Homo sapiens: one gene and its partners. The protein of the gene in region 1 interacts with the protein of each later gene in a pairwise test. Each region holds a gene or a part of one and is shown in the gene's direction. Other genes may lie near its edges.

Region 1 (3,651 bases):
GAGCCACCACGCCTGGACTAGTTTTCCCTTCTTTAGAATGGGGTCATAATAGTATCTACCTCAGAATTACTCTAAAGATTAAATGAGAAAATCCACGTAAAGTGCTAGGTATGGTGTTGGGCATGTAGAATACTCCAAGTGGAGGAGTAATGCAGTTATGCAGATTGAAGAGGCAATGTGATAAGTATTCAATGGGAGTAAGTGTAAGGTACAGCACGGGAGAGTGAGATACCTAACTCAGTCTAGGGGTGCATTTTTAAAAGAGGTGATATTTAAGCCAACAACTGAATCACTGGTAGAAATTAGCTGAGTGAAGAAAGGAATGCTATTCCAGCAGAGGAAATAGCTGCACAAAGCCCATGAAGCAGGTAAGACAGCCTAGTATTTTGGAGGAACTTTAAGAAGTTCAGTGTAGTTGTAGTGATGTGGGGGAAAGGGGTAGGAAATAAGACTAGAAAGGTAAGCAAGGGCCAGATCCCAAAGGGCCTTGTATGCCTTTTTGGGGAGTGTGACTTCATCCTAAGAGTAGTGAGGGAGCCAGTGAAGTGTTTTGTCCCATTTGTGCTTTGGAGTGCTTACTGTGGGGTGCTGTGAGAATGGATTGAAGCAGGAGAGACAGGAGGCAGGGATACCGGTTTTGACGCTATTGAGGTAATCTAGGCTAAAGAGAACTGTGACCTGGTAGAGGAGATTTGAGAAGCACTTGGGAGGTAGATTTGAGAAAACTTGGCCTTAGGTTTGGATGATTAAGCAGAACGGAGCTCCATTCACTGAGATGAGAACACAGGGAGGCATGGGTTTGGAGGGAAGGTCCAGTAGGCTGCTGGATATGTGGGTCTGTAGCTCAGGAGTGATGAAGCTGGAAAGATTTGAAAGTGTGAGCACAGAGGTAATTGAAGTCTGGGGATGGTTCTTGGCTCATTGTTTATTGGTTGCGTGCTTCTCTCCTATTTCAAGTGGCTCTGCTGGTGAATGCTTGAACTGTTCCTCTTGTCTTCCTGTGATTGTTTAACCCCTTAGTTTGGGCTTCCCACCTCCTCCTGTGCACTTGAAGGGTAGCTCTGGGGTACAAACTTGTCTTTGCAATGCTCCCTCCTCCATTCGTCATCAGGGCTCAGCTTGGAACAGCCGTTGATACCTTTAAGCTTCACAGGGGTCTTGAGGTTAGAAGACTTGAGTCCTCAGAACTGGAAAGAAAAAAAAAATACCGGACTTTCTGAGGTGGTTATTTGGGAGGAGGTAAGCTCCCTACTGCTTGCGCAAGTGCAGGTAGAGATTCCAGGTGGTTCTGCAGAGATTCCATTATTAACTGAGAGGTTGAACTGAAGAGTCTTTGGGGTGTCTTCCAAAATGTGGCTTGGCTCTCAAAGTGACTCTAGGTGCTGGGACGAAAAAGAATGAGATTTTTCTAAGAGTCCCTGATTTCTGGGCTTGAAGGCTCTGAGAGATCACCCAATCCAGCCTTCCCCTCTACCTCTGTCCACAGTAGAAATTCATTATATTTGACAAAGACATTTAGCACAGTCCCTCACACAGACACATGCTAGGCACTCACTCATTTATTGAGTGAACAAACAGAAGGGGGTAGTGTAGAGTCATGCAGACCCTGACTTGAATCCCAACTTGCCCATTCTAGCTGCATGATCTCAGGCATGTTATTAAACTCTCTGCCCCTTAATTTTCTCATCTGCAAAATGGAGATGACACTGTTTACCTCACAGGACTGAGGATTAGTGAGAGCTGGTTGAACTGGAAGCACCTAGCAGAGCCTCAGTAAATGTTTGTTGCCCCCAGTCCCCCCAGGGCATCAGATGTAGCTTATTTGCAATCAGCCAGAGCCCTAGAGATAGTTTTTCTGTGTTGCTTCAGAAGCTGCAGTTACTGAACTCTTCCTGTCCTTCCCCTCCACCTGCCTTCACAATCCTGTTTATCAGTATGAAATAACTCTTGGAAAAACTCTAAAAAGGGCTGGGAGCATGGAGTAGTGTAAAAGAACGTGGAGTCAGGGATGCTGTTTTTCATTTCTGGTTCAGACCTTTGCTAACAACTCAGTGACACTGGGTGACCCTCTGTGAGGTGGGGACCACCTCATCTTCTTCCCCAAACTTCCTGTGCAGCCTGCATTCTGTCTCAGTTGGCTCCACCTCCTTCATCTTGTGCAAAAGCTAGAAACCCGAGTCATTCTGAACACTTTCCTCACTCCTCCTCCATCTCTTTCCTAATCTAATTAGTCACCAAGTCATGTCTGGTCTATCTCTGAAATAGCTTCAGAATCCATTCCGTTCTCTTCATCCCCAAGTGTGCTGTCTGGTTCATGCCCTGCCTGCCCAGCACCTGGGCTACTGCCTCCCTCACTGGCTCATCCTCCACACCGCCGCTGGTTACTTCTCTAAACAAGGTTCTCATCACGTTCCTCTCCTATTGGAAACCCTTCTATAGTGCTCTGTTTTCTCCGGCATAAAGCCCCAACAAAACTCTTTAGAGTGGTGTTCATTTGTCCAAATATTTGTGGAGGCTTGCAGGTGCCAGGCACTGTGCTGGGCCCTGGGGTGCCATGATGAGTGAGGCGCAGTGTCTGCCCCTGGGGAGCTTACTGTTGGGTGGGGGAGATGCTAGACAGAAACTACTCTTAGACACTGATACCTCACGGCTAACTGAAATGCAGGGGGAGAGGTGCTTGGTCAACGAGTGTATAGAGGGCCTGCCTTTCTGGGTTCACACTGCATTCTTGGCTCTGCGGTTTAACTCATTCCCTGAATGCACTATGCTCACTCTTAAGTCTGTGCGTTTGTCTTTCTTCTCTCTTCTGTCTGGAGTGTCCTTCCCTGCCTGCCTTTTGGAAAATGTCTATGCATCCTTCAAGGACCATTTCCAATATCACTGCCACTTCCTCCAGGAAGCTTTCCTTGACCCACTTCATACATTGTTCATTTATTCATTCTGCAAACAGCACAAATTCCTCCATCTAAGCTTCCTTGATAGCACATAAGTAGATTTTTCTGATGGCACTGATCAGATTGTATCACAATTATCTGTGGGCCCCTTAAGGGCAGGACTTCATTTACTTGTGTCCTCAGATCTACTACAGAGCCTAGTACAATATTGTCACTCTGAAAATGCGTGCTGAATGAAGTCCTTTAACAGCTCCGTGGCTTAGTTTCTTCATCTGTAAAAGAGGGCAACTAACATCTTCCTTTTTTCTGTTAGGAGGCCATTGGCAAGATTCTGCCTGTAGTGTTTGTGTTTGTGAAAGTACTTTGTAAACTACAGAGGAGGTCTTCAAATGCAGGACAGAAAGGAAAGGGTTTAATTGCTGCCAGACTACAATAGCCAGAAGGGCAGGAGACCTGCCTGGCAGCACCTGCTTTGTTGGCCTGGGGATGTTTCCTAGGTGGTTTATAGGTGGTTTCCTAGGTGGGTTTTCCTAGGTGCCAGGTGCGGTTTATAGCTTTGCTCACAGGGCTTATAGTGGGGCAGCTACTTCTGGCTTCGTGTCTGGCCTGTTCTTTGGGTGTGCCCAGATTCTGCAGAGTTCCCACTCCCTTTCCATCCTATGCTGGAATCCTGAGCCCTATTGCTTAATGAAGGAGTGTTGTAGCAGGAGGCAGGGGGAGTCATTGGGTGCAAGGGAGTGGTCCAGCCTTGTCTCTT
Region 2 (3,651 bases), on another chromosome or scaffold:
CCAGCTGCTCTGTGCTGGGCATCTGTCTACTGCTCAGTACTACCAAGGGTATGACCAGCTTCTCTGGGCCTCCCACTTATACAGACCCACAATTTTCTATCTCCTTTTTGGGACCCTTGGAACCTTGCATAAGAGTGTAGGTTCCCTGGCCGGGTGTGGTGGCTTATGCCTGTAATCCCTGCACTTTGGGAGGCCAAGGTGGGTTGGATTCCTTAGAGGATCACGTGAGGTTGGGAGTTCTAGACCAGCCTGGCCAACATGGTGAAACCCTGTCTCTACTAATAATACAAAAATTAGCCAGGCGTGGTGGCACAGTAATCCCAGCTACTCGGAGGCTGAGGCAGGAGAACTGCTTGAACCCGGGAGGTGGAGGTTGCAGTGAGCCGAGATCGTGCCATTGCACTCCAGCCTGGGTGACAAAAGCAAAACTGTCTCAAAAAAAAAACCAAAAAACAGTATGGGTTCCTTGACCATCCTGGTCAGCATAACTTTAGGGGGTTAAGCGGGGTGAAAACCATCTAAGGACACAGAGGTGGCCTTAGCTTGAAATAATTGTCCCCATGTCTAGAAAATGTTCCTGGGGGTTCCATAGTTGATGCCCTAGCCATGCCACGTTGCCCCAGAAGGAGAGTGGGGACCTGGCCTAGAATGTCTTGACTTTGAATTCCCTTGGCAGGTTGTATGAAATCTTGGAATTGGCTGAGGACATGGAAATTGACATCCCCCACGTGTGGCTCTACCTAGCGGAACTGGTAACACCCATTCTGCAGGAAGGTGGGGTGCCCATGGGGGAGCTGTTCAGGTAAGTCCCCCTGGGTGGAATTCAGGGGAGGTAAAGACCAGAGGAAAGGTGGTAGGGAAATGGCTGGGTTGGATACCCTGGTTTGGAGGGAGATGGAGTAGTGGTGAGAGAACTGTGGAGGCTGTCAGCATTAGGTTTTTCTCTTCTTGTAGGGAGATTACAAAGCCTCTGAGACCGTTGGGCAAAGCTGCTTCCCTGTTGCTGGAGATCCTGGGCCTCCTGTGCAAAAGCATGGTGAGTGAGGGCCAGGAGTCCAGAGATGCCTCCCACGGTGTGGTTTTGGCTGTTTGCTGTGGCCCTGAAGCTTCATGGTCCATTGGTGGAGTGGAGTGATGGTGATGACAGGATTGTGTTGGTACCTGGGAGAGGAAATACTGAGGTGGGCCATCTCCCGCACACCAGTTCCTATCATGAGTTCTGGCCAAGACTGGAGGAGAATGGCAGTCTAAGACCCTAGGCCTGTGATTGATGCATTTATTTATTCATTCATTGAACTAGGGTTTTGTTGATGATCATTTATCATATACTAAGCACTAGGGACACAGCAATGAATAAAACACAAGAAACAAGTTGGTAGAGAAAAAGGAAGAAATGGGCCGGGCGCAGTGGCTCACGCCTGTAATCCCAGCACTTTGAGAGGCCGACGTGGGTGGATCACGAGGTCAGGAGTTCAAGACCAGCTTGGCCAATATGGTGAAACCCCATCTCTACTAAAAACACAAAAATTAGCCGTGTTGTGGCAGGTGCCTGTAATTCCACCTACTCAGGAGGCTGAGGCAGGAGAATCACTTGACCCGGGAGGCGGAGGTAGCAGTGAGCCGAGATTGTGCCACTGCACTCCAGCCTGGGAAACAGAGCAAGACTCTGTCTCCAAAAAAGAAAAAAGAAATGACAGCTTGATAAAAACAACAGTAAAGCGTGACATAAAACAGTTGAAATAGAGTGGAGTATCTTAAGTACTGTGGGGTTGCAAAGGAATATTTGACAATATTTGTGACAGGAGGCTTTCAGGGTGCTGAAGCGGCTTTGTGAAAGTTAATTGGTAACTAGCGAATATAAAGGTAAAGAGATGGGGAAAGGTAAGTTGAATGTGGTACTTAGTGGAAGTGAGAAGTTGGGGTGAGTGTGTGCAGTTTCAAGGGTTCAGCCATCTGGAACCTGGAGGAATCACACTTGGGATTTAAAGGAATTGTTATGTCAACATCATTTAATTCTTTTAAATAGACGTGTACCAGGACAAGTTGTTTTTTAACAACAAATAAGCATATTGAACTATTTGTGTATTTCATCAACTCCAAGGTGCCATAGATTATAAGACATTCTTTATGCGCTGTTAAGAAAGAAAAGACTGGGCCGGGCGTGGTAATCCCAGCACTTTGGGAGGCAGAGGTGGGTGGATCACGTGAGGTCAGGAGTTGGAAACCAGCCTGGCCAACATGATGAAACCCTGTATCTACTAAAAATACAAAAAAATTAGCTGGACATGGTGGTGCGCACCTGTAGTCCCAGCTACTTGGGAGGCTGAGGCAGGAGAATTGCTTGAACCCAGGAGGGGGAGGTTGCAGTAAGCCAAGATTGTGCCACTGCACTCCAGCCTGGGCGACAGAGCAAGACTCTGTCTCAAAATAAAAAAAGATATATATCGGCTGTAAGACAACTTTTAGTTAAAATGTGAAAAAATGGGCATGTTTTAAAATCTGTGAACTGCAATAATCTTGCTAAGAGCCAGTGCCATTAGTCTGTTATAAAGAAAAGAGTGATGTCTTCATAGTCTATTGCCCCTTACAGAAAATGCACTCAGACTGCTGGTTTTATGAGGATTTTTTATTTGTGTTAGGGATGGGGTATATTTGTGTCTTAAGATTTTCTGGGTTTAGGAAACAAGCATACTTGTTAGAAGTTGTCCCTTCCTAGAGGCCCTTACATCATTTTTCCTACCCTAGTGTCATAGCACTTTGGTGGACAAGTTCTCTTTTATTTTATTTTATTATTATTATTTTTTTGAGACAGAGTCTCGCTGTGTCGCCCAGGCTGGAGTGCAGTGGCGTGATCTCAGCTCATTGCAACCCTCGCCTTGGGTTCAAGCGATTCTCCTGCCTCAGCCTCCCGAGTAGCTGGGATTACAGGCACCCACCACCACGCCTGGCTAATTTTTGTATTTTCTGTAGAGACGGGGTTTCACCATGTTGGTCAGGCTGGTCTCCGACTCCTGACCTCAGGTGATCCGCCCACCTCGACCTTTCAGAGTGCTAGGATTACAGGCGTGAGCCACCGCCCGCTCCTGGGACGAGTTCTTATTTATTTGGGTGGTTATTTGACTGACATCTGTGCCCTGCACCAGACCGTAGGAATGGAAGGGCTTTGCCTATTAGTATTTCTATAGCATCCTTAATGCCTAGCAAGTACCTAGTAGGCTTTCAGTAAATATTTGTTGGATTAATGTGGTAGAGCTGTTGGGTCCTTGGAGAGAGAGAGCTTTGGTAAGCTGGGTTGGTCTTGTGTTTTCCAGGGTCCTAAAAAGGTGGGGACGCTGTGGCGAGAAGCCGGGCTTAGCTGGAAGGAATTTCTACCTGAAGGCCAGGACATTGGTGCATTCGTCGCTGAACAGGTTTGGGGATGGAGTTGGGTTAATTCTAGCATTTGAGGCTGGCCAGTCTTCTTTCTTGTCTCCTGTTGGCAACCTTACCTCTTAACTGCGGGCCTTTTCCATTGCAGAAGGTGGAGTATACCCTGGGAGAGGAGTCGGAAGCCCCTGGCCAGAGGGCACTCCCCTCCGAGGAGCTGAACAGGCAGCTGGAGAAGCTGCTGAAGGAGGGCAGCAGTAACCAGCGGGTGTTCGACTGGATAGA
Region 3 (3,651 bases), on another chromosome or scaffold:
GCAAAGTCCCAAGAGTACTTTTTTTTTTAAATTTTGTTTTAATTGACAAATAATAATTGTACATATTTATGGGGTACATAGTAATGTTTCATTACATATAATGGGATTAGATCAGGGTAATTCGCATATCCATCACCTCAAATATTTATTTCTTTGGGTTAGAAACATTCAATATTCTCCTTCTAGCTATTTGAAATTATATAATATGTTATTGTTAACTGTAGTCATCCTATAGTGCTATAGAACACTGGAACTACTTCTATCTAGTTGTACTTTTGTGTCTTTTAATAAATCTCTCCCTATCCCTCTTTTCCCCTACCCTTTGCAGCCTCTACTGTCATCTGTTCTGCTTTTTACTTGTATAAGATCAACTTTTTTTAGCTTCCACATATGAGAGAGAGCATGTGGTATCTTTTTAACTTAATGTCTTCCAGTTCCATCCATGTTGCTGTGAATGACAGGACTTCATTCTTTTTTATGGCTGAATTGTATTCCATTGTGTATATATACCATATTTTCTTTATCAGTTAATCTGTTGTTAGACACTTAGGTTGATTCCATATCTTGACTATTGTGAATAGTGCTGCAGTAAAATGTGAGTGCAGATTTCTCTTCAATATACTGGTTTCCTTTCCTTTAGTTAAATATTCAGTAGTGGCATCGCTGAATTGTGTGTTAGTTCGATTTATAGTTTTTTGAGGAACCTTCATACTGTTCTCCCTAGTGGCTGTACTGTTGACATTCCTACCAATAATGTGTAAGAGTTCCCTTTTCTCTTCATTCTTGCCAGCATTTGTTATTTATCTTTTTGATAATAACCATCCTAACTGGGGTGAACCTTGTTGTGGTCTTCATTTTCCTGATATGTGTGCATTTCCCTGATGATTTGTGATTTTGAGCATTTTTTCATATATTTATTGACCATTTCTATGTCTTTTTTTGAGAAATGTCTGTTCAGATCATTTGCCGATTTTAAAATCGGATTGATTGTTTTTTAGCTGTTGAGATGTTTGAGTTCCTTCTATATTCTGAATATTCATCCTCTGCCAGATGAGTAGTTGTATTTCCTCCCATTCTGTAAGTTCTCTTTTCACTCTTGATTGTTTCCTTTGCTGTGCAGAAAAGTTTTCCAGTTTGAGATAATCATATTTATTTTTGCTTTTATTGACTGCACTTTTGAGGTCTTATTCATGAAATCTTTTCCCGACCTATTAAAGAGGTTATCCTTTTCCTAATGAGTGGTCTTGTCAAAAGTCAGTTGGCTATAGATAACATGGATTATGTTCTTTTGTTCTATGTGTTCTATTGATCTATGTGTTTGTTCTCTTGGTCAATGGGTCTGTTTTTATGTCAGTTCTGTTGGTCTGTGGGTCCGTTTTTGTGCCAGTCCATGCTTATTACAGCTTTGTAGTATATTTTGAGGTCAGTAAGTGTGACACCTTCAGCTTTGTTCTTTGCTCAGTATTGCTTTGACTGTCTGGGGTTGTATGTAGTTCTGTACAAATTTTATGGTTTGTTTTTAAATTTTTATGAATAATTTTATTGGTAGTTTGATAGGGATTGAATTGAATCTGTAAATTGCTTTGAGTAATTTTGTCATTTTAACAATATTTGTTCTTATATAAGCATGGGATGTCATTACATATGTATGCTCTTTGGTTTCTTTCATCAGTGTTTTTTTTTTTTTTTGTAGAGGTTTTTCATCTTCTTGGTTAAACTGCTTCCTAGATATTTAAAAAAATTTTTGTAGCTGTGGTTAATGGGATTGCATTTTTTATTTTTTATTGTATGTGTATAGAAACACTACTTATTTTTGTGTACTTATTTTGTTTCTGGCAGCTTTATTGAATTCATTTATTGGTTCTAAGGGTTTTGGTAGAGTTTTTAGGTTTTTGTTTATATAAGATTATGTCATCTGCAAACAGGGACAGTTTGCTTCCTTCCCAATTTGGATACCTTTTATTTTTTTCTCTTGCATAATTGCTCTGGCTAGTACTTGCTTAACTGTCTTTTTTTTATTTTTTATTTTTTTGTCTTGAGACAGGGTCTTGCTCTGTCTCCCAAGCTGGAGCGCAGTGGTGTGATCATGGCTCATTGAAGCCTTGAACTCCTGGGCTCAAGCAGTCCTTGCAACTCAGCCTCCCGTGTAGCTGGGACTGCAGGCATGTGCCACTGCACTCAGCTTCTTATTCTTAATGTTTATCAAAATGGGGGTCTCACTGTGTTGCCCAGGCTGGTCCTGAACTCCTGGGCTCAAGCGATCCTCCTGCCTTGGCCTGCCAAAGTACTGAGATTACAGGCATGAGCCAGTGTGCCTGGCCTTTAACTGCCTTTTTTCCCACTTGAAGATGCTTTGCCTTTATCTCAAACTGACCTCATTGACTGGCTTTCTCTTAACTACTGTTTAGGGCAAAGGTCAGCAAACATTTTCTTTAATAGATCAGAGAGAATAAATATTGTAGCTTTGTGGGTCACATAAGGCCTCTGTCTCATCTTTTTTTTACAATGTAAAAACCATTTTTCATTCACAGACCTATAACAACACAGGGATTTTGTCCGTTGGTCACAGTTCATGGACCCTTAGCTTGAGGTGTCCTCGTTGTAGTTTGTCTTCCACATTTAGTTACAACTTTGTATTTCATGGTTTTTTTTTTTTTTTTTTTTTTTTTTGAGACAAAGTCTTGCTTTGTCGTTTAGGCTGGAGTACAGTGGGGTGATCTTGGCTCACTGCAGCCTCCACATCCCAGGTTCAAGTGATTCTCCTGCCTCGGCCTCCCAAGTAGCTGGAATTATAGGCACACACCACCACACTCGGCTGATTTTTGTATTTTTAGTAGAGACGGAGTTTCTCCATGTTGGCCAGGCTGGTCTCGAACTCCTGACCTCAGGTGATCCGCCCACCTCAGCCTCCCAAACTGCTGGGATTACAGGTGTGAGCCACCGCACTTGGCCAAAAAGTTTTTGATTGTTTTGATTTGTGTCCGTTAGATTCTGTTAGTAGAGTGGAGGGATGGCTTAGGTAAAGTTCCTGCCATCAGAGATACTCTGTTTCTGTTGTAGGATTCAGAAAAGAAAAAAAGAACAGGAAGTTTTCTTCTTTTACATACATACTTTATTTTCTTTAAAAAATGTGTTTATGAAAATTGAACATTAAACAAGTATGTTATGGGAAGTGGGTCTGGCTATAAGGAGCTAAAAACAGTTATAAAATTCTCAGTTTTGTCATCTTTGCCCAAAATAAATCCAACTAATTAGTGTTAAAGTAGGTGCAGCAGAGCATCCCAGAAGTAGTCTTGTGGCCTCCCCAGGACAGAACTCCTCCCCACCCAACTGTTTGTGAAGACACCCTGCAGAGGTCCCTGATGAACTCCTTGTCTCTGGCTGCTTTTCTGTTCTTGCTTTCTTTAGAGAATGTATTTTTCCCTTAGCCCTTTGAAAGCTTTTGAGACACACAGTTGGTATGCCAATTATAGCATTCTTTATCCCTGAGATCTGGGGGATTTCACGGTCATAAATACACACTGTTTTGAATATATAAATATTTTTCTGGGGAGAGTTGATTGTTTTCATCTTAATATCAAAATGGTCAGTGACCTGAAAGAATTTACTGTCTATCCATTCATTAAAGCAGTTTTGCAACAGTAGTGTTTT

What was found.
Region 2: the proteins of PEF1 (region 1) and EIF4G1 interact in binary tests that used the Homo sapiens proteins (3 or more experiments, as listed by UniProt).
Region 3: the proteins of PEF1 (region 1) and TFG interact in binary tests that used the Homo sapiens proteins (3 or more experiments, as listed by UniProt).

The regions. Positions count from the first base shown.
Region 1 is NC_000001.11:31,638,317-31,641,967, reverse strand, and holds part of PEF1 (peflin), read left to right. Parts: exon of another isoform or gene 1-359; coding exon of another isoform or gene 360-368; intron 369-3,651. UniProt on the Homo sapiens protein: Calcium-binding protein that acts as an adapter that bridges unrelated proteins or stabilizes weak protein-protein complexes in response to calcium.
Region 2 is NC_000003.12:184,327,955-184,331,605, forward strand, and holds part of EIF4G1 (eukaryotic translation initiation factor 4 gamma 1), read left to right. Parts: coding exon 1-48; intron 49-676; coding exon 677-802; intron 803-954; coding exon 955-1,036; intron 1,037-3,311; coding exon 3,312-3,410; intron 3,411-3,517; coding exon 3,518-3,651.
Region 3 is NC_000003.12:100,715,906-100,719,556, forward strand, and holds part of TFG (protein TFG), read left to right. Parts: intron 1-3,651. UniProt on the Homo sapiens protein: Plays a role in the normal dynamic function of the endoplasmic reticulum (ER) and its associated microtubules. Required for secretory cargo traffic from the endoplasmic reticulum to the Golgi apparatus.